3 separate regions of the Homo sapiens genome follow, and all the other regions are linked to region 3. Evidence: fine-mapped expression QTL. A gene starts in region 3. Each other region holds a variant in brackets. All regions are shown on one strand. Distances are between the middles of the regions.

The links.
Region 1: its variant is fine-mapped to the expression of EOGT in monocytes after interferon gamma (Fairfax 2014, PIP 0.95).
Region 2: its variant is fine-mapped to the expression of EOGT in skeletal muscle (GTEx, PIP 0.98).

What each region holds. Positions count from the first base shown.
Region 1 is chr3:68,972,743-68,982,970 of GRCh38, forward strand. EOGT (EGF domain specific O-linked N-acetylglucosamine transferase) reads right to left here. Exons shown (of 18, transcript NM_001278689.2): 15 at 10,069-10,130; 16 at 6,926-7,045; 17 at 5,591-5,693; 18 at 2,483-5,022. The coding sequence ends at 4,876. Among named protein-coding and RNA genes, the nearest start is that of EOGT-DT, 35 kb to the right of the region's middle. The variant CAA/C (reference allele first, on the strand shown) is at 4,582.
Region 2 is chr3:69,054,043-69,064,270 of GRCh38, forward strand. It overlaps UBA3 (ubiquitin like modifier activating enzyme 3), which reads right to left. Exons shown (of 18, transcript NM_003968.4): 7 at 10,026-10,069; 8 at 9,397-9,461; 9 at 8,940-9,095; 10 at 8,035-8,137; 11 at 7,772-7,885; 12 at 3,214-3,267; 13 at 2,737-2,773; 14 at 2,570-2,651; 15 at 2,141-2,241; 16 at 1,958-2,021; 17 at 1,809-1,863; 18 at 688-1,483. The coding sequence ends at 1,395. Among named protein-coding and RNA genes, the nearest start is that of TMF1, 6.8 kb to the left of the region's middle. The variant C/G (reference allele first, on the strand shown) is at 4,100.
Region 3 is chr3:69,009,871-69,019,717 of GRCh38, forward strand. It overlaps EOGT (EGF domain specific O-linked N-acetylglucosamine transferase), which reads right to left and starts at 3,814. Exons shown (of 18, transcript NM_001278689.2): 1 at 3,704-3,814; 2 at 2,645-2,929; 3 at 2,066-2,121. It overlaps EOGT-DT (EOGT divergent transcript), which reads left to right and starts at 3,250. Exons shown (of 1, transcript NR_185971.1): 1 at 3,250-8,183. RefSeq lists silencers at 3,132-3,681, 3,742-4,041.

The sequences.
Region 1 (10,228 bases), 37 kb before region 3:
GCCCTTGCTTGGGAGTAGGTTATTTTAAACAATTGCTTTCTCCAGGGCAATCATACCTGAGTTGATTTGTGTATATGCTCCTAGTTTAGAAAAAGCAAGTATTTTCCGTATTTTCTCTCTACTGACTAGGTTTCAAAAAAGAACTATTTTGGGCCAAGAGTGGTGGCTCACACCTGTAATCCAAGCATTTTGGGAGGCTGAGACCAGAGGATCTCTTAAGCTCAGAGTTTGAGACCAGCTTGGGCAACATAGTGAGACTCTATCTCAACAAAATATGAAAAATTATCCGGGCCTGGGGGTGCATGCCTGTAGTCCCAGCTAGTTAGGAAGCTGAGGCAGGAAGATCACTTGAGCCCAAGAGTTTGAGGCTACGGTGACCTGTGATTGCGCTGCTGCTCTCCAAACTGGGTGAGAGAGAGAGACCTGTCGGAAAACTAAAAAACAAAACAAAAAATTCGTTTTTTAACGGCAAGAAAAGGCCCAACTCCAGGACTGTTTTTTCCATGTTCTATATCCCCCAACTAATTTCTCCCTTCTCTTTCCCTCCCTTCCTTCCTTCCTCCCTTTCTTCCTCCCCGACCTCCTTCCTTCCTGCATTACATGTAAACATCCCTACCTAACTCAAAATTCCTTCACCAAGAAAGCCCTATATCCAATCCTTCTGCTACTGGCTGTGTGACTTTGGGCAAGTTCCTTAACCTCTATTTAAACATCTTAGAACGGTTTTTACATTTTTAAAAGATTGCAGGAGGAGGGCAACAAATAATAATACGCAGCAGAGACCATATGTGGCCCACAAAGCCTAAAATATTCAGTCAGCAGTACACGGTATCAACTATAAGTATTCTTTAAAAACAGACATTCAATCTGAATCTTAAGGAGACTTTAGATCCAACTTTCAGTTGACAGGAAGCAGGAGGGAGAGTAAGACAAGCTAAACGGCACCTCGGCACCACCTCACCCGCTAGTGAATGTGCCGCTGAGATCCCCTTCAGACTGAAGCACTCAGTCCCCAGATTGCTTGACATTTGGCTGCTGATGGGTCACAGCTGAGCTCCTCACCAGGCCTTGCCCTCAGCTGAAGGAAGTGGCCTTGCTAAGGCCCCACCCCTCTCTGGGATGGCCCCTGTTTGAACTTACGTGCATTTCTTGCCTCGTGCATTTCTTGCCTCATTTGGGGACCTCACTGAAAGGCCACTCCAGCCCTACAGCACCCCGCTGAGGCCTCACCTGGCATTGCCCCTCAATTTCTCCCTCTGCCCAAGCCTGGACCCCTTACACCCTCACAGGTGTTGATCGTGAGAACCTTCCCCCCAAAAACTATCTGCATTCAAATCTCCATCCCAGAATCTGTTTTCCTAAGACATCCCTCCACACCCTATTCTCAGCGTAACAGCTAGAGTTAGTGTGTTAGAGATAAGGCAGGTCTTTACTACTTTACTCAGATCCCTTCAATGGCTTCCATCTCATCAGAACCTTGCCATCTACACCCTTGTTGCATTATCTCTTGACTTTGCCTCCTACTCCTCTGCCCTTGATCACACCAGCCACACTGGCTTCCTTGCTCTTCCTCAAACATACCAGGCATGCTTCTGCCTTGGGGTCTTTGCACATCTTCTTCTAGCTTCTTGGAATGCTCCTTGTCCAGTTATCTGCATAACTCCATCCCTCACCTCCTTCTAGTCTTGAGTCAATGAAGGCTTCCCTGACCCCCTACTTAAGTGTGCAGGACTCCACCCCACCCCAGACTCCACATCCCTTTCTTTGGTTTTCTCCATAGCACGTATCAGGATCTGGCACACGGTACATCTTATTGATGTTATTTAACGTCTGTCTCCACCAGAATGTAAGCTCCATTATGTTGTTTAATGTCTGTCTCCATCAGAACGTAAGCTCCATGAGGGCAATAACTTTTATCTATTCTTTGCTGTATTCCCAGAACTTAGAATAGTAACTGATACAAAGTTGCAGCCCAATCAATATTTACTAAATGAACAAGTAAATAAACGAATGGAAGACTGTGAACATGGAATCAGAAGAAGGCTTGTGATCTTCAGGGAAGTCCCATAACTTCCCTAAAGTGGAATGGAAGACTTCCCTAAACGAATGGAAGACTGTGAACGTGGAATCAGAAGGCTTGTGATCTTCAGGGAAGTCCCATAACTTCCCTAGAGTGGAATGGAAGACTTCCCTAAACGAATGGAAGACTGTGAACGTGGAATCAGAAGGCTTGTGATCTTTAGGGAAGCATTCTTCACATGAAAAACAGGAACCATAATTCTTATGTCATTTTGGTAATGATTATACAATATAACATTTATAGAAGCATCATGTAATAAACTGCTAAATAAAAGGCATTTTTGATCAAACTGAATTCTTCATCAGAGAGGTACTTAATTTTTATAATCTAAGAGCTACCAGATTGCCAAAAAGGAAGCACAGAAACATTCAGACACAGAAAACCTTAAAAATGGTTCTGATATTCAAATAAAATATAAAATGATTTATTCCAAAGCCATACCCAAAACATACAATGAAATACATCCCTGTTAAAGACTTAATAAAAAGAGCAATCTTTACATTTTACAATTTGAAGACCTTCTGTTCCCACAAAAAGTCTCATAAAATTCCATAAAGTGTCAAATGTATTTTCCTGTTTATATAAAATGTATTCTCTCTTCAAATATAGCCGTTTTATTATGAAATTGTTCTCAATTTCTGAAATTCTCAGTAGTCTATAGTATCCCATTTTCACATGCTTCTTAAAATGAGGTAAGAAGACAAACGGTGAAACTTTTTTCAGATCATTTTTTCAGAAGTCAATGCCTTGCTGATGCAAAGCGCAACATGCTTTTGTCATCCCTTTCATCTGAAATATTTTCCCAGTGGTTACTCAGTATTTTGCACACAAAAAACAGTTACAATACCTGCCACTTAAAAATCCATAACATGTTGTAATTCTTCTTATGTGATTTTAAGGTCTGAATCAAAGCCATTGCTACAGTGATTCACTATTTTCTTTACAGGTATTTTAATAAATATTCCTCAATTCTAGAAGACTGTTCCAATCCTTTAAAGTGGGGGTCAGCAAACGTCTTCTGTAAAGGTCCAGATATTTTGTTTTGTGTGTCATTTTTCTGATGGATATTTTTTACAACTGTAAAATATTTTTAAAAAATTATTTAGCTATTCTGTAATTTGTTACTCCATTATTTTAAAAAATAGAAGTAACTAGTCTCTAAATCAGACTACTCAAGTGTTAATAAAATGTAAACTTCACATTGTGCAGTAAAATAAATCCATGGTTTCTGACTACTAAATTGAAAGTTCATAAGCAGTAAGAAATGAATCCCACTCAAAGAGTGGGGCTACATTCCAGATATTCTTTTTAATCAATGACACTGTTTTAGAGCTTCTTTTTCACTTTCATTGAATAAGTCACATGTCTTTAGTTTGTTTTTTCTTGGTCTTACTTTTCACAGGGAAAAATTCTCTTCATGAGGCTAATTTGAAGTTTTTGAAATTAAAGACTGGAATACTTTCATGCTGACAGAGGTAGACGCACACGCACTGGTATATGCAGTTACAAATACTCGCATAAAATGGAAACCATTATTTCATATATAAATTAATTAATCACAAATGCTCTCCATGGCTAAGAAGGAATCAGTGGAAACCAGACAGAAGGTATGCAAGACAGTCCTACAGAATGTTCTAATTTGCTTTTATCACATGTAGTTGCTACATTTTAGGAAAACATGATTTAAATATGAAACATGTAATATAAATTAATATAGTGGCATGATTTATTCAGGTTCTCGATGCATATAACCTGGAGGTGACTAAACGCTGATCTATAACATGGTCCTATAGCTTGGTACTGAGAATCACAACTCTGCGTGTGTGTGTGTGTGTGTGTGTGTGTGTGTATGTTTTGCATGTTTTCCTTTCCTACCACAAACAGTGTTATAACCAGATTATGGCAAATAAAAGAACAGTTGTAAATTTACCCAAATATATCATAAACAAGTTGGAACACTCTGGAATTACAGTCATATGATATTCTACAAAAATATTTACAAATTCTAAAGCTGAAAAAGTTGAAAACTTTGGTATTCCTAAAAAGAGAAAGTTCAGGGCCATGCGTGGTGGCTCACACCTGTAATCCCAGCACTTTGGGAGGCAAGGTGGGAGGATTTCTTGAACCCAGAGTTCGAGACCAGCCTGGCCAACATGGTGAAACTCCGTCTCTATCAAAAATACAAAAATCAACTGGGCGTGGTGGTGCACGCCTGTAATCCCAGCTACTTGGGAGGCTAAGGCACAAGAATCACTTGAATCCAGAAGGCAGAGGTTGCAGTGAGCTGAGATCATGCCACTGCACTCCAGCCTGGGTGACAGAGTGAAACTGTATCTCAACGACAACAACAAAAATTTAGCCAGGTGTGGTGGTGCAGGCTGCAATCCCAGCTAGTCAGGTGGCTGAGGCAAAAGAATCGCTTGAACCTGGGGAGGCAGAAGTTGCATAAACTGAGATCATGCCACTGCACTCCAGCCTGGGTGACAGTGAGACTCTGTCTC[CAA/C]AAAAAAAAAAAGAAAGAAAGAAAGTTAAAGTATACTGGGGAGTCCATGCTTAATTTTTGAACTATAAAAAGTTTTCAGTGCAAAATTATTGCTATTGATAAATAGCAATGACACAAAAACCACATGAAACACTTAACATCTATACAACACATAACAATATCCTGAAGGTATGTTTTGGCATAGAAAAGGTAATTCGGGGATAGGAAATAACAGATTGCTTTACTGATTTAATTCTAAGTCTGGGTGTTGGAGTGTTTAAACACTCTCTTTTTGCAAACAGACTCAGCATATTTATAGCTCATCATGTTTCTTCTTAAATGGCCACTTTGGGTGTTGCAATACGTGGTCTGCAGCCTGAAGGACAAGATACATAAATTCTTCTACATCGAAAGAGTAGTTGGTGAACTTCGGGTGCTCCCCCAGGGTTGGATGGTGGCCCTGTGAAAATAAACCAAAACACGAATCCATAACTCAATGAGGGCATGGTTTTCTCTACAGCAGGAAAATTATGTTACTTTGGTTAAGGCAACTAATTTATGTTCTACATCAGAGACCAGCAAACTTTTCCTGATAAGGGCCAGATGATAAATATTTTCAGCTCTGCTGACTCTAAGGTCTCAGTCACAGTTACTCCACTGTCGTTGAAGTGCACAAACAACTAGAGACAGTGCATAAACAGACAGGCATGACTGTGCTTTCTTTACAAAAACATGTCATGGGCTGGATTTGCCCACAGGGCTGTTGCTTGTTGATCCCGTCTCTATATATAATCTAATAGATCTTTCTAAGCCCAAATTTCACGAAGCTGCCTTTGTAACATTAAAGATATAGGTTGCTTAATTCCCCTTTTTCTCCTATTTGCAAATATAAAATAAAACAATTCAGTATTCCAGAGAACAGTTTATCTTTGCAGCACTGAAGTTCAATAACCATTTTTCATATCAATAATTGGATACTTTAAACCAATTAAAAATGAAGCAAGGTAAGTTTTGTGATTGAACTTTACCTTATCCTGAGGAAAGACTTTGTTCTGCCGTCGCCAAGTGATGTAGTGAACGCCTCTCAGCCTGGCCAAGTCTAAGTAACAGCGTTCATCTTCACAGTTGTACCTAAGGACACAAGGGTGTCACAACATGAGGCTTTTGTCCAAGGTTTTTTCCAAATCAACAACTCTGCGAAAATAAAATGCAGCTCCCAAATATGTCCTTGCAAAAGGTTGTAAACAAGACTGAGGAAGACAGTAAACAAGACTGAGGAAGAGAATGTAAAAATATTCTCTGAACTAAATGAACTTAACTTTTAAAAAACAAAATAGGGTCATGGAATGGAGAGAATTGACCTTATTCAATAGGGCCTGCTGCCTATGGACTTGGCATGACCTTATAATACCTCTGTCTTTAAATGTATGAAAGAGGCAAGGGGGATAGGTAACACTTCCAAGGTCATATAACTAAATAGTGAAGGATGCAAAAGTAGAACCCAGGTCCATTAGACTATAAGGCTTGAGTTTTCTCAGTTACATTTCTCTCCCTTCTCTCTCCTTTCTTCCATCCTTCCTTCTCTCTCTATAAGAGAAATGACAGAGATAGAATCCATTATCTGGCTATTTCTCTACATATATCATATATATTTTTGAAATGTTTTGCAGGGCATTGGAAGTTCATGACAACTTTTTTCCTAAATAGCCTCCTATTTAAATACAGAGTCAAATCACTTTTAAAATGAAACCATAGAACCCAGATATTTAGACATAATGGGGGGAAACAGGTAACAGTAACTGCTATTAGTGTCTCAAGACCTAAAATGGAGCACAGTGCCAACAGCAGAATTATTATGAGAGGGAAGGTCATGTCTCCATAAACCAACCACTGAGTTAAAAGTATGCCCTGGGCAAATCATGAACACCCAAGGGCCTCAGTTTCCCTGTGTATGGGATCAGCAAGCACTAAGTTAAGTGGTTGGCTTGTGTTTTGAAGCTATGTCGTGCATGAGACATAAATGCTTTCTTTTAACACAATAACTACACTGTTTGCAAGAAGACGCTCAGAGTTTGGGAGGTATGCAGGAACAAACTCAGAATAAGGAAACCACAGATTCACATCTTCCATATCATGCTCGGGATGGGAAGATGAAGGGGTAGTTGGCTTACTAAGTGCAATGGCAGGCTGCAGACTTTGTATTTTTAGCTTCAGGCCTCTTTTCTTTCCAGATTGTCTATATGATGTGACTTCTCTTTTTGAATGATTAAATATTAAGCCTTTTGATGCTCAGAATGAAAGCTTTAGCATGCATAAAAAGCATTATCAGTTGCTTCAGTGTAAAACTGCCTCCCAACACTTACAGTTCAAATACAGCAGCCCAGTCTGGAAGGAAAAGTAAATGGGTCAGACCAGCTCCATGCATTCCAATAAATATGTCCGTGTTGTGTGTGATCCTTAGTTGATCTAAAAACCCAAGTTCTCTGTGAACATACAGAATAACATGAGAGAGATGGGGAGAAGAGAGAAGTATTAGGTTGAGTTAGTTCATGATTCACAGTAAGGATATTTATAAAAGTGTATTGCCCATTTTAAACCACATTCCATTTTTAAGAAGCATTTTTGCCAATTTCAAGTGCGCTCTAGTAATTAATAAGTTTCTTAATAATTTAACATATTTTCTAAGTAAGCTCACCTATCCTTTTAGGTTTAAGTACTTTTTTTAAAGGAAACTTTAATATCTGTCTTAAATGGAAAAGCAGTGACATATGACATCAACAAAACTGTAAAAATTGATATAATCAAACTAAGTAGTGTTCAAATCGAGGTAGATACTATTGCAAGACAAAGCTCAGAGCCTGAGGCCTGCTCTTTCTTCATGAAAAAGAGAAATTGGCAAGTGTTAAAGAGATGTTGTGACACACTAGCACTAAATTAAAAACTATTTCCTTAGGACAATAGAAGCACTTTTTAAAAAGAAACATTTCTCCTTGTGTGATTTAAGTTTTTATAATGCCCTCTGGGTACCTCCAAAATGATCTCAGATACCACCAGGGCATTATCCTGCCTTTGGAACAGACAAATCCACAATTTTATGCATGTTAGGACTGTACAAGTGTTCTCTAAATCCAAGACACTAACCAGTGTGTAAACTTTGAACCAAAAATCAGTCCCCAAACAATTCACTGAGGTGAGGCTAGGGAGAAATGCTGGAATAAGGGTGACACTCTGAATAAACAGAAAGAAATGAGATCTCCCAGCCCCAACTTACCCAAAGTAAAGAAAAATAAATGATCAAGATTATTTTGGATCTACGAAGGGAAGCTGAATTCCCTTTTACACCAGCTAACAACAAAAACTCCGCATAGGAAAAAGATGACAGCTCCATGTGTATGTGTATCACAACGAGAACATGTGCCTCAGTTTCTCCAGGAATGTGAACTGATGCCAAGGGAAGGACGGCCATTCACCCAGGTGAACATACCCCTGCACTGCCAGTTGTGGAAACGCCTGTGGTCAGCACTCACCAATCCCCATGCCAACATGTTACTAGTATTTCCCGCAGACTGGCAAGGTACGAATTCATTATCATTCTTGCTTATCTGAGAAACTACAACATATCCTTAAAAGCCAGTCAATGATACAGCCTCAGAGGTGCCCTGCCCAGTTCTTTCCATTTCTTCCCAGCCTCATCTAGGTGAATGGTTTTGGGACTGATGTGGGGGCCCCATATTGGCTCACTCATTTCTTCAAGCAACACTGACACAACATTTCTTCAGCGCAGCAGATTTTACATAATCTGTAAAATGGGACTAGCTGGGCCAACTCAGAAGACTGTTGAAAGCGTGAGATGAGATAAAGCAAGTAAGCATAAAAGTACATTTCGATAAATAGTAGCTGTTTTTACAATTGCTATTTACCTCTATTCAGTGTCTGAGATCCTCAAGACCAGGGCTATGCCATCCGCCATAATGGGATTCCTACTGCTGAGACTGGTGACCAGCTCATGGGTCCCCAATAGAGATTTATTGCACAAATGAACTAATGTATGATGAATGAAGTGCAAAGCTCCCATGCCAACATTCTCTGAAATTAAGTGTATCTATATTAGATACCCACATGCTGGGATATGTATACTTCTTTTAACTGGAAAGTGTTCACAGTGTTAGATTTGGGAAACACAGCTGTGACTGTAGGTGGACATGGAGACAGAAGTTTTCACTTTTCCTTTTGATCTTTTCTATACTGCTTGACTTTTCAACCAGAAACATGTACTACTTTTACCAGGAAGATGTAATTCTAGCAACAGGAATTACCCAAACTGTGAATAATAGGCATATTCTGTCTTTCTAAGCCTTTTAGTTGTGTTAAGAGTTTTAAAAGAAATGTAAATATTTGGTAAGTTTTTTTAAAATTTCATGTTATTCTGACCCTCAAATTATCCCCATATAAATAATTTTCAGTCAGATGTTGAAATCTGGCAGGAGGCAGGGCAAATTAGGTTTATAACATCTAAATTTTGATAACTTTTTTGTTATCAAACATTTGATAATGTTATCAAATATTTGATAAATTTTATAACACCTAAATTTTGAACTAGTTGCCAATTTTTTTTTTTTTGAGACAGAGCCTCGTACTGTCACACAGGCCGGAGTGCAATGGTGCAATGTCAGCTCCCTTCAACTTCTACCTCCTGGGTTCAAGCCATTCTCCTGCCTCAGCATCCTGAACAGCTAGGACTACAGGCACACGCTGCCACACTCGGCTAATTTTTTTTATTTTTTAGTAGAGATGGGGTTGCACCATGTTGTCCAGGTTGGTCTTGAACTCCTGAGCCCAGGCAATCCACCCATCTCAGTCTCCCAAAGTGCTAGGATTACAGGCGTGAGCCATCGTGGCCAGTCTGCCAATTTTTTAAAATTATGAAATTTTAGGCCGGGTGTGGTGGCTCATGCCTTTAATTGCAGCACTTTGGGAGGCAGAGGCGGGCAGATCACTTGAGGTCACGACTTCAAGACCAGCCTGACCAATATGGTGAAACCTCGTCTCTACAAAAAATACAAAAATTAGCCGGATATGGTGGCACACGCCTGTAGTCCCAGCTACTCGGGAGGCAGAGGCAGGAGAATTACTTGAACCCAGGAGGTGGAGGTTGCAGTGAGCTGAGATGGCACCACTGCACTCCAGCCTGGGTGACAGAGCAAGATTCTGTCTCAAAAACAAACAAACAAACAAACAAAAAATTCTGAAATTTTAAATGAAAATCTGAATTCATCACTTCTTTTGAATAAGGAGATGGAGTGACAACATCAGGCCCCAGAAAGCCAAAGAGTAACTGCCCTTGTTACCAGGGACTTCACCTGCCCATTTCATTCATCTGTAGTGTCTACTTGTCCCTTCTGGGCCTACAAATGCCAATGGCTCCCACTGGAAAAATGCTTTCTAGCCCCCTTGACCTCATCCAAGCAAAAGTTGACAGTGTCTGCTGAGATTGGCTATTACTTACCTATACTTGTAATCAACAATCTGGACTTCAAATGTAGATACTGTTTTCAGTGCATTTACAAGCTGGGAAAAAAAGAGAAACATTTAGCATTTCTTTTCCTTCTTTCACTTCTGTTTTTCCCTTATGAGTCCTAAAATTTCTTTTTTTGCATATACTATTT
Region 2 (10,228 bases), 44 kb after region 3:
ATTACTGAAAACTTAACTCAGTGACACATAAGTAACCAAAAAACATTTGAACAGAAAACTGCCATATCTAAGTCAAAAACAAAGAATGAGAACACATACATGTTCTCATATTAAAATACTAGCACCTACTTTTTTAGTATTTGTACTTAATTTTGTTTGAAGTTTTATTCACTTAAAAGAAACAAAAACATGGTCAGGCATGGTGGCTCATGCCTGTAATCCCAGCACTTTGGGAAGCCGAGGGGGGCGGGGGGGGGTGGATCACCTGAGGTCAGGAGTTTGAGACCAGCCTGGCCAACGTGGTGAAACCCCGTCCCTACTAAAAATACAAAAAATTAGCCGTGCATGGTGGCAGGCGCCTGTAATCCCAGTTACTCCGGAGGCTGAGGCAGGAGAATTGCCTGAACCGGGGAGGCAGAGGTTGCAGTGAGCTGAGGTTGCATCATCGCACTCCAGCCTGGGCAACAAGAGCGAAACTCTGTCGCAAAAAAAAAAAAAAAAAAAATTATATTGATACAGAAAGTTAAATTAAACCAGTAAATTTTTACTATAGAAATTGCTGTAGCAAAAGTATTAAGTGCAATAAAAATTTGATATAACTCTGCTACACATTTAAAAATTATTCCTATATTACCATGGAACTACTGATTACCCTTAATGTACTTTTAAAAACTTCAGTGAAAGAAGTACACAATATATGATTTTATTAATAAATAGTGCAAAAGCATCAGTGATAACTGTTTGAACATTAAATTTTTTAAACAGCCATGTCTTGGCATTAGTTAATATTGTGCATATTGGCCTCTATGGCACTACAAGTAAACAGATGAAAATATTGCCCATTTTCATGCACAGGTATTCAGCTATAACACCATTTACAAATCATTATGAACAAGATAAATTCTGCAATAATATTCATTTGGATGGCCACAATTAAATGAGTGTTATATCAAGAAATAGCCTATGTTCAATATACTCCAGATGTCAGATTGTAAAATGTAATGTTATTTAAAACTTAATTCTTTATTTTCCTTAAAGGGACACCTTTTGTGTATTTGGGTACTCAAATGAAAACTTAGGAATGCATTCTTTGACCATAATAACAAAATTCACACAAAAGAGGTTGTATGCTTCCTCCTCTAAAAGAAGCAATACATTTGCTCATAATCTCTCTCTCCAGGTATCATTTCTCATATTATTAATGAAAATGCTTACAAGCACCAACACCAAAATTCTGTCTTCAAGGGAAGGTTACAAAGTTAAAAAAGAGTGGTTCATTATATAAAAAAAGACAAATCGTGGCAACACTATTGCTAAAAATGACATCGATTCAACTTCTTAGCATCCACAAAGTATATTATTTCCATGAGTTTTCTATTATGTGGAGATTTTCCTTAAGAAGTAAAATGAAGTTTGAATAGTACAGTCTGTGGGGTGGTGACATCAGCAACCGCCAGTTCTTGTCCATCAACAAGCCCCAATTCTAAAACAGAAAAAATATTATTAATACAAGCAAAAAAAACTCAACAGAAAGGATAATACACATGTAAACAAACTACAGAGTATTACGGTCTAGAAAAACATCAAAATCCAATCCTCTTTAATCAAAGTAATATTTGATTTCTTAGAGATTTTAAAATATTCTACTAAAAGAGCAATTAATTCTATTAATATGTCTAAAGTTGTAAGTAATTATTACCTGACCATATACAAGGCATTAAGAGGAAATCTAGAACAAGCACTGATTACTTTCACCAAAAAGAGAGAAAAGAAAGAAAATGATTAGTAAATACCCTTATGTAAAATACCTTTCAATGTTTTGGAGAGATTTGGCCTTGTTCGTTCTTCAATAGAGGTTACCGACTAGAAAACAAAATTACTTTAATGTAAGACACATTAAAGTAAAATAAAACTTGATATAATTTTCTGAAAAAAATTTAAAATACACATTGATAACCTGTAAGTAAAGTGTTCTATTTTTTCCCTCTAGGGTGGCTGTGATGGCTGGAGATTTCATTTGCCTAAAGATTATGATGAGAGAGAAGTATCAAACATAATTTTTATCAAAAGATAATTTTTTTAAGGTTTCAAAAATCACAAAAATGATTTTTACAACATAACAAAAATCTACAATACTTACAGAGAAGCACTATTGGTTAGATAATCCAAAACCTCCTGTAGTTTAGCTGATGGAGAAAACTGAATATTTTGAGGAAGCTGGCTACAAGCTGGGCAGTTTTCCTACACACATAATACACAACAAATTACAGCAGCACATGCACCAATATTAGTCTCTTTTATGAACAATAAAATAAAAATCAGGTTGTTTTATAATCATGCATATTTCCTATAAAAAAATTTTTATGCTTTAAAGCCTGCTTTTCATAATAGACCATTTCTTGTAAATTACTTCGCTATAGAGTTATTTCAGGCTATAAAGCAAAAGATATATAATAAGTAGAGTTCTGGAAGTTAGAAAATGTATGGGTGACTTTGTTCAAATTTCTAACCAATAATATTTAAAAATCAAAATATGCATGATCAAAAATGTGTTCTTAATACTACTAACCTTTCTTTCTGCTTCAAATGTGTATGTATACAGCCCATCTACATCATTAAACACCAAGTAATTATTCAAGGGAATGTATGCACTGTAATGAAAAAATGTTCATCTTTATATAATTAAACCAAGTCAAAACATAAATTTACATGCATATTAAAAATGAAACCTATTACCTTGTGGCTATTTTAAAAACCTCAGTGGCACACACAGCTGAAGGGAGGAGAAAATACAGGTGCTTTAACTCAATGGAAATTAGGCATGTTAAAAGTCAGTTATAAATCAGAACAGATAAATTTACATTGGCTCTTCATTAAAAAATACATATTCCAATTTTTAAAAACTGAGACAGTAACAAATTTTACATTGTTTTGTGTGATTCATGTAATAGAGTAACACTACATGTTTTTCTTGTTTATCAGATTAATAAATGGCCTGCTTCATATGGAACTAAAACGTCTCTTTACTGCAGGTAACTTAAGACATAATGTAAGACAAAAAATATGCAAAGTCTAATAACTGGTTCTTTTTCGACAGCTTAGTTACACAACCCATCCAAGAAGATATCAAATTCCTACAACACAAAAAAGCTGCAGCAACGTCAAAAACTAAAGAAAGCAAAATAAACTAAGTGATGGCCTTTTCTTCCTCACCTGCAATGACTGCATTTGTGGAAGCTACTGCAGGAATGATTCTTTTTACTACCCCTGAAAAAACATATCAATTAAAATATGGTCATTTCTTTAAAATAAAAGAGTTCTCTTAAATTAGAAGGCATGATTATTAAATACCATTTTCTAAAACTTGATTTTTCAGACTTTCAAGCCAGAAAATAAATTTAACCATGAAACAATCTTTCACATCCCCATCACTTTGTAGTAAATTCAGAATCTTAAGCTACAGTAGCAAAGAAAACTCTCTCAAGTAAGTGCTATAGAAAGGTGAAACAATAACATCATAATAGTTAACAATTTAGAGTATTATGTTCCAGGCACAATGTAAAGACTAAATATTATTTAATTTTCACAACATCTTCATGTTAATTACTCTGATTTTAAACATAAGAAAAGTGAGACTGAGAGAAATTTAGTAATTTATCCACAGCTATATACTTAGCAAGAGGTGGGGTTGGCATATGAACACAGATATTAACTGATACACCATGAAGAATAAGTGTTATCTAATTATTCCTGTAACAGCTTCAGTCACTTGATTCACAAACATTCAAAAAAAAGAAAAGCTGCCCTTTATTATCTTTTACTCTACAACCGAGGCTACACAAAATATTAAATACAGTTCTCTACTTCAACCCCACATTTTTCTTTTTTTTTTTTTTTTTTTGAGACAGAGTCTCGCTCTGTCGCCCAGGCTGGAGTGCAGTGTCGTGATCTGATCTCGGCTCACTGCAAGCTCCGCCTTCTGGGTTCACGCCATTCTCCTGCCTCAGCCTCCCAAGTAGCTGGGACTACAGGGGCCCGCCACCACGCCTGGCTAATTTTTTGTATTTTTAGTAGAGATGGGGTTTCACCGTGTTAGCCA[C/G]GATGGTCTCGATATCCTGACCTTGTGATCCGCCCGCCCTGGCCTCCCAAAGTGCTGGGACTCACATTTTTCACATCAGTATTATTCACATATTAGGAATAAACAAAGCCTCACCTTAAACCATTTTTTAAAAGTACAAAATAAATACTCCATTTTATAACTATATTTGAATTGTTCATTTTAGAAGACAAAAACTTCAAGAAAAAGTAGCCATTTTATCTCACAGTGTGAGGAAACACTGTAAGATGTGTTCCCAAGACTCCAAGTATAGTCAGGTTTCAAAAACTTAAGGAAAAACAGCAAGTAGCTAAGAAGACATGAAAGAAAGACAGTTACGAAGGCTGGAAAGCTTTTTTAAAAAGTTGACTGTGACCATATGATTCTCTATAGTTTTGGAGAAGAGGAAATTTAAAAAGAGATAAACTGCATGATGGTTAAACTGGAAGCTCTCCACTGAACCACATGTAGCAGGATGTACTGAAAGGAGGAAGTGGTAGACACAAACAGTGAAGCGTGTAAGAGACACTGCCCAGTAAGAACATTGCCAAAATGATGAGGACTCCCCTCTTTCTCCAACCCCTGCCACCCATACCCCTGCCCTTCGACCAAAAAAAGCTAGAGTGGGCAGAAAGGCAACTTTCTGTTATACTGAGAACAAGGGGAAAAATCATAGAATAGATAGAACCACTGGCTTGTGCAACTTCACTTCCAATTCTCCTTCTGTACTCCTTGTTGAGGCCCTCATTCACCAGCCTAGAAAGTACACACCAAGCCCTGGTAAAAGGTAAAGAAGGATGGATGAGACTACATATTAAAATGGGGAGTTTACAGTTTCTGGTTAGAACACACTGAATTCGTTTGTTAATTCTAACAATTAGCAAATATGTGTAACACATGCTCCAGACACTGTTCTAGGTGTTGTGCATAGTAACAATGAAAAAAAGTATCTGCTCGTATAGTGATTTCATTTTGATAGGGGAGATAACACAAAAGTAAATACTTGGAACACCTCAGATATTGAAGAGTTCTATGAAGAAAATGAGGTATGTGTTAGACTGAGAATGATGGATGCAGTCCATTAGAGAGAATGGTCAGGGAAGGCCTCCTTGGAGAGGTGATAACTTGAGCTGAAACCTAAGCCATGAGAGAGATCCAGCCATGCAATTACCTGAAGAAAAAGCTGTTTGTAAACAGCAATGGCAATGGTCCTGGTCCTGGGGCAAGGATGTAAGATAGTTTAAGTGTGAAATATTCTTTGCATAGGAGAATGAGGCTACCATTAATCAGTTCTGAGCAATTACCAAAAAAAATAGAATGGTGAATGGCTCAGAAGTCATTTTAGGTTGAATGATTAGGAAAACTGGTTAAGCAGACACCTAAGAGATGAGGAGCCAGCCTGAGGGGATCCAAGGAAACACCATCCCCGGCGTAGGAACTCGGGAGTATTAAAGCTCTAAGGTACAGAAGAACTTGGTGTGTTCAAGGAACACAAAGCAGGTCCGTGTAGGGAGAATGCAGAGGGCAACAAGGAGTAAGTATAAATGGAATTTTAAAATGACATTACTAGATCAGTAAATGTAAGGAAATAATCACAGGAGAGAAATGGCAGATTTTCAAAAAGAAGACAAAGCTCATTCTGGTGAACCTGGTAATGATCTTGGGCAAAATTCTAAAAAAGGAAACTATAACTAGATTGGAAACATTGATCACTATGATTGAGCATGACTGGTTACTAGACAAATCATGTTGGAGTAGCCTCATTTGGCTACTATGACTAACTTAGCAACTCAGGAAAATGCAAAAGATAGCATACCTAGGCTTCAGTAGAGGATCTGGAAAGGTTTTTCATGACATCCTTGTGAACAAGATAAAGAAATACAAAGTACCAAGAAGGTCTGATGAACAGAATGAGATAAACCTAAAAGGGCCTGGCCAGAAGTATGATTCAGATGTCTGTTCTCAGAGAGTTCAGTCTTATTAAAAATTTTCATCAATTATTTGAAAAAGAAATAAAGGATATAATTATCAAAACAGGTGAAATGAAGCTAGAAACACCAGGTAAGTTGGCAGAATACATATAAAGAGAGAAAAACAGGTTGAATTTTAAGAATACATTTGTAAGGACCTATACTTGGATATTAAGAAAAACAAAAAAAAAAAGACACTCCCCAAACTGCCAAGTTTATAATAGGCAGATGTGGCTTAGCAATTGCATATGTGGACAAAACATCCAGCTTTCAGTGGCTAGTAACATCAAAGAATCCAAAGTATAGCATCAATGTAAACAAAAAAACAACAACATAAATACCTGCTCTCCTTTAAGACTGCATCAGTTATCAGAAGTCTATTATCTAAAGTTAAGACCAGTCCCATAATGCTGCATGTTGGCCTGAACAATTAGGAAAAGTTGTTTTCTCTAACTATATTCCAGTTAACCAATATGGATAGCTGGAATATGGTTACAGAAAAACAACATGAGAACCTGAAGCTGTACAACATATCAAAGGGTTGGATATAGTTTGGATATCTGTCCCCTCCAAATCTCATACTGAAATGTGATCCCCAGTGTTGGAGGTGAGGCCTAGTGGGAGGTGTTTGGACCGTTAGGGCAGATCCCACATGCATGGCTTGGTGCCCTCCCTGTGATATTAAGTTCACGCAAGAGCTGGTTATTAAAAGAAGCCTGGTATTCCCTCCTCTCTCTCTTGCTCCCTCTCGTCATATGACATGCCTTGCCATCCCCCTTAGCTTTCACGAGTAAAAGCTTCCTGAGGTCTCACCAGAAGCCAAGCAGATGCTTTTGCCATGCTCACACAGCCTGCAGAACCATGAGCCAAATAAACCTCTTTCCTGAATAAATTACCCAGTTTCAGATATTCCTTTATAGCAAAGCAAAATGAACTAATACAGGGTTAAAGGAACTAACTAGGGAGGTTTATGGCACTGATAAAAATTTGCAAAGGATGTGATCACTGTCCTCAATATGTTAAAAGCTATTACTTAAAAGGGAATTAGACTGTATACAGTACTGGGACAACAGTCAGACCAAACTGAAGACGATTTCTATTTTGAGACGAAGTTTTGCTCTTGTTGCCCAGGCTGGAAAGCAGTGGCGCAATCTCAGGCTCACTGCAACCTCAGCCTCCTGGGTTCAAGTGATTCTCCTGCCTCAGCTTCCTGAGTAGCTGGGATTACAGGCATGTGCCACCACACCCAGCTAATTTTGTATTTTTAGTAGAGACAGGGTGTTGCCATGTTGGTCAGACTGCTCTCGAACTCCTGACCTCAGGTGATCCGCCTGCCTCGGCCTCCCGAAGTGCTAGGATTGCAGGTATAAGCCACCGCAGCTGACCTGAAGACAATTTCTGTTCAATATATAGAATATTTGTCTAACAGTCCTGTCCAAATGTGAAATAGACTGTCTCTAAGAGATGATGAATTCAGTGGAAGATAAAATGGACAGTTTGACTTGGATGACTTATAGCCTAAGTAAGTAAGATTCAATAATTTTATTAAATTCCCCCTAGCTAATAAGTAGTATGAATTACATGGTACCTTTACTGAACTTCAAGTGGATGGTACTGTCTAAACTCACTTATCGATTATTCTCCTGAAAGCATCCCAGCCCTAAGTCATCCCAACATCATAATTCATGACAATTTGCTGACTTACCTTGAGTGAGCCTATACGTAACACCCCTAATATTATATTGTGATGCTCTCTCTAGGGATTTTTGGAAAATCCATTGTATATGTTCAGGATCATCTCCATCTAATGGAACCCCTTCTGTTTAAAAAAAAAAAGGGAGAGAGAGAGAGAGAGAAGACAGGAATACGTAATCACAAAACAATGTTTTTAATGAAATTATCCAAAGGAATAATATAGAAAAAATATGTATTTTATGTAATTCTAGATTATTAAATTAGGTTTATTACCTCCAAAAGGCTGCTCCTTAGGCCACTGCAACATCCTTACATACTCAATACAGTGTTCTGGTAGCCTGGGCATAGATGCAATGGTGCACATGGGAAAATTAACCTAAAACCACAGTTTGTCCTTTTCAGTGAATTTTAAACGAATTATTTTAAAATGCAACTTCCAGTTATGATCTAGTTCTTAACAATTTCATACAATTTGTTTCAACTCAAAATATTGTATACCATTAAAAATGCCTCTCAAACTATAATACAGATTAACTGAGTCACTTCACTTAGGCTGCACTGCCTGTAAAGACAGGTTTGCCCTACATTTACAAGGTATAAAATTTAAGCTTTGTTAGACTATGAGAAGAAAAATACTGAACAGATTTTCTCAAATATGAACACCTTGTTATTTTTACCTAATATTTAAGTATAAAGCAAACCAAAACAAAAGCAAGTTCAGAGTTAAGTGAATCCCAAGTGAATACTCATAAAATTGTTTACATTTATTATTCAAAATTTCAAGTGTTCTTTAAAGTGGATATGTAAACCAAAAAGCCCCATCCTTGGAAAGATCATTCTTATCCCTGGTATCTTTATTTCCCTGAAATAAATACAGGTGAAAACCACATAGATTACAGCTTGACATCAATATACAACTTTGTAATTCTACTTGATACCTACTCCCCAAATAAAAAATACAAATAAATTATGAAAGCAGAATAGTATCAAAACAATGTACTCGGTTCATATCTTTCCTCAAATAGAGCAGAATTTCATATTTTATCTTTCTTCTTAGTGTAATTTTTAAAATACGGCCACTTCTAATTAACAATCCTAAATATTAACTAGACTTAATAATTAATCCCTAATTCCATGCCAAGATACTATAAAAGAAATGCAGGTGCTTTTTTGATTACCTGTGGTGGATAAAGTTCCAGCGTGCATTCGATACAAGCAGTCATTCCAGGCAGAATCACCCGGGCATTTCCTTTAAAACCTTCTGTCCCCCCATCTATCAAAGGGACAATGGAGCTTGGATCTAAGACACCATCTTCATAATTTAGAAGAGATATCTAGGAAAACAATTTGAAGGGCTTTAAAGGAGAAGGGGATAAGAATTCAAAAGAAGAAGTATGCTTTCAAGTAATCCTATGAGTCGGTTGTGCTATTGAATACCAATGTATCAAATCAAGGGATTATAATAACAATTTGTGTCTTCACCTGAAAACCAATGACTGGCAATAAACAATGAAGTAAATATACTTAATTAAAAATTAAACTCTGATTTTTCAAAAATATATCAATTCTAATTTTGGGGATGTGAAGCACAGCAGCAAGAACTTCAGAGAACTATAACAATACTAAAGTCTTTACCAGCATGCCATTTATCCATCTTCTGGCGATGATAGAGTCCAGTCCACATACAATAATATGAAATTCTACAAAAAAAAAAAAAAGCAACTTTAGTTTTTAAATATGTAGTTGCATGATGATCTTTCAATGTAGATTCATCAACTGCAACAAATGTACCACTCTGGTGCAAGATGTTGATTAGGAAGGTAGTGTGTTTGTGGGAACAGGAAGCTCTATGAGAACCCAAGTTTTCAAAAATTTTCTGTTCAATTTTGTTGTGAACATAAAACTGCCCTAAAAAATAAAGTTTACTAATTAAAAAAAAAAAGCACTTGCAGAAAACAATTTGCACGTTCTAAGAAACCAACAAAAAAACCACAAGCACTTTTTACTGTAATCCCACATACGTTCTCAGAGCTCCAATTCCTTGAGTGAACTCTCATTCAGGTAAGCATAGAAACTTGTAGCTGGTCATGTCAGCTAAAACTAGCATTCTCTTTTCAGTCTATCAGCAACATTACTGAAAAGCCAACAGTGAGAGAGGAAAGCAAGTGAAGAAATAGCCTTGAAATAGCTAGCAATATTTGAATAGCTACCAACTAAAAAATTCTAAGAATCTAGTGAGCATTAATTTCAAGTAAAAAACTTACGTCGATAGAAAGTGTCGTTAAAATCTTGAATCTTGTTGAAATGTCTGAATACAAGTAAAGGAACTTAAGCAGCTAAGTTTTAATTTCTAAAATGAATTTGACAATGCCATAAGGAACACACTCTGCATATATTTACAACAAGAAATAAGTAATCAATGTTCACATCAGTGGAATTCAAGGAATCTGACTAAATGAACACAACT
Region 3 (9,847 bases):
AAATGAAGACAACTTTGTTAACAAATTTCCTTTAAAAGCCAAAACAACAACAACAACAACAACAAAAAAAAAAAAAAAACAAAGGGTCAAGGGCTAAGTATAATTACAAAGCACTTTGCTATCCCACTGAATAATGATCCTTTATTCAATTTTTTTTGAGCACTTGCTTGGTGCCAGGCACCACGTTAGCAAATGGGTATACAGAGGTGAACAAAACAAGAAAGAGCCTTGCTCTCATGGTGCCTTTAAACCTACTACAACTGTCATAAACAAGCAATCAAATAAACAACTTCAGCTGATGACTGGGCCTGTGAATCAAACCAACTAGGGGCCAGCAAACTTTTCCTGTAAAGGAGAAGCAGTAAATATTTTTGGCTTTGCCAGACATAAGATCTCTGTGGCAACTACACAACAATGCCTCTGTCCAAAAAAGTAGCCATGGTCTATTATAAAAGAATGGATGAGGCTGTGTTCCAATAAAACTTTTTAACTTACAAAAATTATGGAAGGGCTTGATAGGATCCAGTTTAGTGATACCTGAAACTAAATAAAGTAATATGATAGACAACATAGCATGGTGAACATTTAAAGCTTAACCACCTGGATTTGAATCGCAAATCTGCAGCTTCCCAGCTGTAAGACCTGGAACAAGTTACTTAACCTTTCTGCACCTAAGCTTTCCCATCTGTAAAATGGAAATAATAATAAACCTTCATCATAGAGCTGTCATGAGTTAAATGAGTTAGTTATTGGTAAAGTGTTTCGAAAACTATCTGGCACATGCTAAATGCTATGGAAATGTTTATTAAATAAAAGTTTAAAGCCATGTGGGGCAGAGAAGGGGCCTAAATAACATTAAAGCTGAGATCTGAATGATGAGGAGGGGAAAAGTATCTGTGAGAGAGCAAAGGGAGTGGGATGGCTCTGAGCAAGTGTGTGTCTGCTGAATAAAAAATTATAATCATAATCAAGGTATGAGCACAGACAATGTTCCAGGAGCGCTTCTGTACTCAGGATACAGCAATGAAGGTGCAGTCACGAACTAAACTCATTGCCCTTGTGAAGCTTACATGCTAGTAGGTATAATAATCAGCTATAATAGCTAAGACTTAGAAACTCCAGGACACTAAGCAGTCTGCCTCAAAGACTGTGCCCTTAAGCTCTCCCATCATGCCTTTACATTGTGAACAGTGATAATGGTCAGAAACCTCACTGCATTTCTAATTCACCCAGTAAGTGTTAAATCTCTTGGACCAGATTTCTCCTATATATCCCAGACAATGATCCTGCCATTCTCAGGTCACTTTAGTGGGATCTTTGTTCTTTTTTTTTTTTTAAGTGCTCTTTCCACTGGATGACAGAGTCTTAATACACACTGGATGTTCATCAGCTAGGACTGCTGTTTCCTGGGTCATACCGGAAAACCCAACTTTCGAAATCAGTCTTCATTGATTATGGGCTGTGAAGATGGAACCTTTAGAAACAGACTGCAGGCCTGTAATAGTAGCACTTTGGGAGGCCAAGACTGGCAGATTGCTTGAGTCCCTGAGTTCGAGACCAGCTTGGGCAACGTGATGAAACCCGGTCTCTGCTAAGAATACAAAAAATCAGCTGTAGTCCCAGCTGAAGTGGGAGGATCACTTTAGCCTGGGAAGTCAAGGATGCAGTGAGTCGTGATCTCGCCACTGCACTCCAGCCTGGGTAATGCGAGGGAGACTCTGTCTCAAAAAAAAAAAAAAACAAAGAAAGAAAGAAGAAAAGGAAATTGACTGCTATGTTCCATCAAACCTCAAGTTCCAAGGCCATGGAATTCTAAGTGAACAGTGGGGACACCAAAAAGGAATCCTTTTTCCCCCATTTTCCCCCCTTGGAGTAGTTAAGTATTGTGGTTTTTCACTTTGGCGGCCCTCAAGAGTATGGTGTTATCTGCTGTAAATCTGATCTGAATTACAATAACATTTTCACTTGGAGCTTTTATCCAAGAATGAGTTGACAGCAGTTTTATAAAAATTTAAAAACACATATTAATAGTAACAATGACTCTACTTGTAATAAAAATATATACCTCTTGAATCTTCAGAACCACTCAGAAGCTTCTGTGATGTTTCAGGTCTCTAAAACCTGTCAGAAATGAAACATATTACCTTAAAAGGATGCTAAAGTAAACCTGATCATTCAGATGATGTTGTGAATTAAAGGAAATATTAAGAAAGAAAATAATGTAACGTGATAACTCTCAGCCAGAAGGCCTGGCCGGTGGTGCGCTTTCTTTTCCTTAATGAATACCACACTGCTATACTCGAGTTCACAGGCACCACCCCCAACACAGCAACTCGGACCAGATTCCAATGGGGAACGGGAGGAGGTGGCCCACTTTCTACAGGCATCCACTGGAACTGGCCAACAGGATACTTAGTGGATCAAACATTCCCAGAAGCAAACAACTTTCCCATTCTCACAGCAGTAATCCCACTGGCTGAATCACAGGGCTACCCACCTAGAGTGGCGAGCCTGAGGGTTCCCAGGCCTTCCTATTTTTTGACTCGTCCTTCCCGGTAATAAAGTCATTGTTATGACCAAGCCCTGACCTTTGGTTATCCAAGTCCATTGTCCTCCAGTGAGCTCTGGCCATCACTAAACTCACCGATCAGTGGAGAAGTAACGCTTAGGCGATGGAAAAAATCTAAAGACGCAGATCAGAAAGCTGGCGTCTGGCGAGGGCATGTACCCACTTGCATAAGGCGGCTGGGGGTGGCTGCTGGGCCTGGCACAAAGCCTTCCTGGTGTCGGTCGTCCTGCAAGGCCCGCCGGGATGGGTGGCTGCACTCCTCCAGCACACGGACGCTTTACTGGCCAGGCTACTTTTCCTTCAGCTCAAAGCAGCTGGAATCACTCCACTCCAGAAACCCTTGATTCGATTTCCACAGGCCTAATGAGGAAGGAAAAAAGGGAAACATCTGAAAGATGATGGATAGGAGGCAAAACCTGGGGTTGACACAGCGGGCGAAATGGGGCAATGTCGCAGAGAGAGAGAGCTTGGAAAAGTTTAAAGACGGCAGTGGGCAAATGGAAAGTTCAACACGTGAGACCCCGAATGACACCTCAACGGCTGGCCCCTACTTGTGCCAAAAAGTCTCTCGGCGGGTGCCAGGCAGGGCTCAGGAAGTGCTCGGCTGCCCCTTGAACGTCAGTCCCGGCAGAGCCCAGCTGTCCGCTTGAACGTCAGTCCCGGCCAAGGGCTGAGGGGTCAGTGGCGAGCACCCCGCCGCGGCTGAGACGCCGCGCTGGGGTTCCGGACCCCGGGCGCCGCCAGGGATTGCTTCGGGGTCGGTGATCTCCCGGGGCCGCCCGCCACCGTGCACCGCGGCGCCCCGGGTCCCCAGCGCGCCTGGGAGGGGCCCCGGGGAGCGGCTCCGCCCCGGCTGGAAACCTGGTCAACGCGGCTAGGGCCCGGGGCCCGCCTGCGCTCCGGGCGCTGGGAAGGGGCCGGGCGCCCGGGGCCGGGGAGGGCCAGGATCGGCTTCCGACGCCCGCCTCCCGGCCCGCAGGGAATGGGAAGGCGCGGGCGGAGTGCGTGCGTAGGCTATAGCCCTCCGGGAAGCCGCGCCGGGAGCGGCTACCACCCGGGCAAGAACAGCGCAGAGCGCTGCGGCGGCGGGAAGGAGAGCGGGGGAAGGCTCCGCAGATTGCGGGGGAGTCCCACCTGGAGCCGGGGCAGCCGTGAACTACCGAGGAGGAGGCGGAGGAGACGGCGGCTGTTCCAGAGGAGGGAGTCGTCATAACCGGCTACTGCCGCTCACCGGAAACCTCGGGCGCGGGAGCTGGGCCAGGGGGCGCCAAGGAGCAGCTGGGACACCTTGGCCAGCCGGCGCCGTGGGCGGGCTCGGGCCCCGCAGAGGCAGGACCGGGACTACACCCAGGAGGGCCAGGGCGCGGGGCCCGACGCTCGGAGCGGCTTCAGCCCGGCGAGCGGCCTCGACCCGGCGAGCGCAGCAGGGAGGGGCTCAGAGTCGAGGAACCATCTGCCCTTCCTGGCGTTCTCCCGCGAACGTTCGCGCGAGTCCGCCAGCTCCCTCACCAGGGCCGGAAAGACCGACGGCACGTGCCGGCGCCGGACGCCCATCTCCATCGCAGCAGCCCGCGCCTCCTTGAGCGAGAGCGTTAAAGCGCTCAGAGGATGTTAGGACGGGGTGGGTAGAAAACCTGACTCTTCGTGTCTTCTGCGTTGCACTGAGGTGGATTTTTACTTTTGTCTTATTTCAAGCAGAAGTTGCCGCCCTAACTTCCAAATTTGGGGACTGAACATCGTTCACCGAATACACTTTGTGATGGTGAGGATACTTTGGAGTCCACACACATTTTAAAAGCAGTATAGTTTTACCTATCCGTAAACTCATCAAGTTCAAATGCTACTCTGTGGAGTTTAATTTTTATGGTTTTGTTAATTTACTTTATTACTGCTTATAATTATTTGAACTCCCATCCCCCACTGTCTTTTCCTCTAAGCTCCCCCAGGCCTAGTATTCCATCTACAGCACAGTAGAGTTGATCATTAAATAGTGACTAAAGTTGAACTGATTATATGAAGGTGATGACTTCAAAATAAACATGCTCAAATGAATATAGTCACCAGAAGTTAAATAATATGATCATAAGGAAACAAGTTTGTTTCCAAAGGCTTACATGCTTTTTACGTAATTTTTAAAAGTAATGTTGTTTAAGAATTGTTACAAGTTCCATTAGTGACCTGCTAAATTAGGAATCTTACCTGGAATTTTTTTCAAATAATAACAGCAAGAACATGTGGTGTTTAACATGTGCCAAACATTGTTTTAAAGCACTTTACAGTATTAATTTATTCTTTTTATTGAAAAGATTTTGCCTCTAAGGGAACTGTCAAGAGGCATGTGAACCGGAGCAACTCCATCTTAAATAGGAGCTGAGTAAAATGAGGCTGAAACCTACTGGGCTGCATTCCCAGGCCGTTAAAGCATTCTAAGTCGCAGAATGAGATAGGAAGTCGGCACAAGATACAGGTCATAAAGACCTTGTTGATAAAACAGGTTGCAGTAAATAAGCCGGCTAAATCCCACCAAAACCAAGATGGCCATGAAAGAGACCTCTGGTAGTCCTTACTACTATACTCCTATCAGCGCCATGACAGTTTACGAATGCCATGGCAATGTCAGGAAGTTACCCTATATGGTCTTAAAAGGGGAGGCATGAATAATCCACCTGTTTAGCATATCATCAAGAAATAACCATAAAAATGGGCAACCAGCAGCACTCAGGGCTGCTTTGTCTATGGAGTAGCCATTCTTTTCTTCCTTTACTTTCTTTTTTTTTTTCCTTTACTTTCTTAACAAACTTGCTTACACTTTGCCCTGAATTCTTTCTTGCTCGAGATCCAAGAACCCTCTCTTGGGGTCTGGATTGGGACCCCTTTCCTATAACAGAATTACTGCTCTATTATTTTATACTTTGCATACTTCACCATCCCACACTAATGACAGTAATTTTTTAAAATGCTTCCTCAAGCCAGGCACTGTGGCTCATGCCAGTAGTCCCAGCTACTCAGGATGATCGCTTGAGCCCAGTGAGGTTGAGGCTGCAGTGAGCCATGATTGAGACACTGCACTCTAGCCTGGGCCACAGTGAGACCCTGTCTCATAAAAAAAAAAAAAAAAAGCTTCCTCAGCCTACTTGCTACCATCCTATTTTTGTCACATACAAAAAGGTTAAAATCAGTATGACATGTGCATGGTACTATTTTATTTTATTTTTTTTGTAGAAACAGGTTCTTGCTATGTTCCCAGCACTTGTTTCCAACTCCGGGCCTCAAGTGATCTTCCAGCCTCGGCCTCCTAAAGTGCTGGGTTTACAGTTGTGAGCCACCACGCCTGGCTATGTGGTGCTATTTTAAACACCTACATATTGAATGGTCATTCAGACTTACAGGAAACCAGATATGATAAACCTGAACATGAGATTGAGTCTCTCTTACTGTAACAGCCATTCTCAAATAGAATTTCTCTCCAAAATACCAATGTTAGAATTTAAATTTTCTTTGAGCTGACATAAAACTCAAGTGTCTACCAATAGAAGGCTGGTTGAATAAACTATGGTTTATCCATACAATGTAAAACTATGCATGCATAAAAAGGAATTGAGAAATATCTCTGTACACTACAGAATATTGAGTGGGAAAAGGATATGTAATATGTAAATATCATTTTTCTAAGAGGAATATGTGTGTATACATGTGTATACACATATATATTTACTAATTATTATTTTACAAGTAGATTAACATTTAAAATGACTATATGGGCAAGGAGGGAAGAGGAGGGGTATAAGGAACAAAGAAGACATGACTTTGTTTTTTGGTGTGTGTGTGTGTGTGTGTGTGTATGTGTGTGTGTGTGTGTGTGACAGAGTCTTACTCTTTTGCCCAGGCTGGAGTACAATGGTGCAATCTTGGCTCACTGCAACCTCCATCTCCTGGGTTCAAGCAATTCTTCTCCCTCAGACTCCTGAGTAACTGCGATTACAGGCATGCGCCACCATGCCTGACAAATATTTATATTTTTAGTAGAGACGGGGTTTCACTGTATTGGCCAGGCTGGTCTCGAACTCCTGACCTCAAGTGATCCGCCCACCTCAGCCTCCCAAACTGCTTGGATTACAGGCGTGAGCCACCACGCCTGGCGTGAAGACATGACTTTGAAGTCATGTAAATATGTTACATTATAAAGCAAAATTCTGTTTTTAAAAAGCAATCCTTGAAAGTAAAATGAAACTAAATGAACCTAAATGTTTTCCAATTGTGGCATATCACCCAGAGGAGCTATCCCAAGTGACTTTAAAACTTAATTTGTATATACTTAGTGGGATGTATTCTCAGGACTAAAGTACAAAAAAACTCTTTTGTAGACTGCATTCCGTAACCAAATTGTTGGTGGCAATATTGGTATTATGGGATACACCAAGTTGAAGTAATTATGATGGTACCTTTGAAGCTGAAATTTTTGACATGAGATAGAAATATGAAAGCTTAATCAGGCTATATAAACATCCTGTAGTTCTGAATTTCAGTTGGAGGCCTCAGTATGATTAACAGTATGGTTAATCTTTAAAAACACATCTCTCCTACGTGCTCCATTGAAAAGGCCTAGAGACAAGCTACCCAGGAGGAAGAAGCACCCCCTTGCGCTCACACTGTGATCTCTACCAACCATTTCCCATTAAAAGAAACACTGACTCCATAGAACAATGGATGATCTTGGGTCTGGAGCAGGAAATGTACAAGATAAGCCTGCAACATCTTACATCAGGAAGCAGCAAAGCAATCAAAAGGCTATTAGGGTCATATCAAAAGGACTCAGGATCCACCTTGAAAACCTTCCTACTGGCCAAAGATAGGATGATTTAAAACATAAATAAAGGTAACTGTAATTGGATGAAGGACAGATACATTTAAGTAATCATATCAGACACGACCAATCAACCAAACATGCAAGCCAAAAAGGTATCGCTGTTCATTTTTAATGACAGAAGGAAACCAACTCTTATTCTGAAAACTGGTAAACAAAGGGAAAGAATCAGGAATATTTATACTGTCTTTCCTGTATGAATTATGATGCAAATAACAAAATAACTGAAGTAAATTTTTTATGGAAACATTCCAACTACTAAATGAAAAAGAAATGACAATATCACTCCACAAGCTCTGTGAACTAATAGATTTAAGAAGTGATCATCAATTATTTCTTTATCACAACTGAGAAACCATCAGGAATTATCTGTCTCCTGCTGGAAGAATACACTTCCACCTAATGAAGTATTTTTGTTGAAAAATAATTGCCTTTAGATTTAAACACAGGAGGCGGAACACACTAACAAAAGGTAAGAAATCAACATCCAGATGGAGGGAAACTATAGGACAAATGACCTAGTTTTTTCTACAAATAAGAAACTTCATCGAAATTGCAAGAATTAAGAAAAAGAGAGACAGAGATGGAAGAATGCATGGCTTAAAAAATTTGAGACAAATCCAACAAATTACAATGAGTAAATTGCTAACAATATCAGCAGAATGTAGTATACTGGTTCTCTCATCCAACTGTTAGACCATAATTAAAAGGTGTTGACATTTTTAATGAATAAATTTTGGCTGTAACTGATCTATATGCTTATGATTTTACAGAAAAGCAGTAGGAAAAGTAGCACCATATAATTAATTATTGAAATCATAGACTCTGGAGCCAAACTGCACAAATTAGAATCCCAGCTTTGCCACTTACTTGCCATATGACCTTGAGCAATTTACTTAATCTTTATTTTTAAAAATGGGGGTGATAATGGCATCCATTTTAAAAGGTTGACTTGATGATAAAGTGTGGGTACACACTTCCTTTTCCAAAATCCTTGGGTCCCTGTGTGTGTCTGAACTTTAAAAAATAGAATAGATATGCCCATCGTTTAACTTAATACCCCCCCCCCCCCACTGAGTCCTGGGTGAGTACCCCATAATCTCACACAGTATTTCTGCAGCAAAATGTATGAGTATTCACACCAAATGAGTTAAAGACTATACATAGCCCTATGTCAGTGCAGTGCAGGCTTTACCACCGAAGTAGATTTAACAGCAAATGTATTAAAATATGTATGGTTTTTAGAGCTTTGTGGATTTCAGAACAATGATTATGGGATTATAATCCTACATAAGTGAATTCCTTACACAGTGTTTGGAACAAAATAAGACTATGTTTCCCAAAAAAAGAAAAAAGAAGAAAAGACTATATTTCCTATTACCAACCTGACCACAGATTTTTGAACAACGTATATTTTTAAAAATTAAGATTGTAATTTTAAAACAGACAAATCAGCATGGCATTTTATAAAAATGGAAGGAATACCTCTATCTACCATGCTGTGCCTATACCTGTAAAAGCAAGAAGAATGTTTAATATTAAACAAACAGAAAAACCTGCCATTACGTTCTTGTTTAATGTTATTTGCGATTCTAAATATTAAATTTAGGCTACTTGGGAGTAGGGCAGTGTGGGGAATTCCAGACAGTTCTAAGAGTAAATTCTCTTTACCGTATTTGTGAATTATTGAAGCATTTTGAGTTTTTTTGTTTTGTTTTGAGAAAAGGTATTTAAGTACTAAGGAGAAATACATTTCATTTCCAGTCTGTCTTACAAAAAGATCTTAATTTGCTAAAAGGTAAAATGCGTATGTATAAAGGCAACAGATTAAAAGTACTTTAAAGGTTACAGAGCTTAATCCAAGCAATATGAACTCAGAAATAGAGGATAACTTATTTTAACTGTTGTTATTACTTGAATACAGAAACATAAGACTTTTAGAAGAATGTCTTGATATTGCTTAAGATTAAAAACTGACACAAACTATCCTTACAGTAGTTACCAGCTAGTTATAAGTAAATTCTTAGCACTGTGTTTTCCGAAAACATATCTTCATTAGAAGATAATGAACTTAGGGCCGGGCGCAGTGGCTTATGCCTATAATCCCAGCACTTTGGGAGGCCAAGGTGGGCAGGTCACTTGAGTTCGAAACCAGCCTGGCCAACATGGTGAAACCCATCTCTACTAAAAATACAAAAATTAGCCGGATGTGCTGGTGCGCACCTGTAATCCCAGCTACTTGGGAGGCTAAGGCAGGAGGATCACTTGAACCTGGGAGGCAGAGGCTGCAGTAAGCTGAGATCACACCACTGCACTCCAGCCCAGGCAACAGAGTGAGACTCTGTCAAAAAAAAAAAAAAAAACTACACTTAATACTAATAATGTAACTTATAGAAAATTAGGGCTTCATTTTC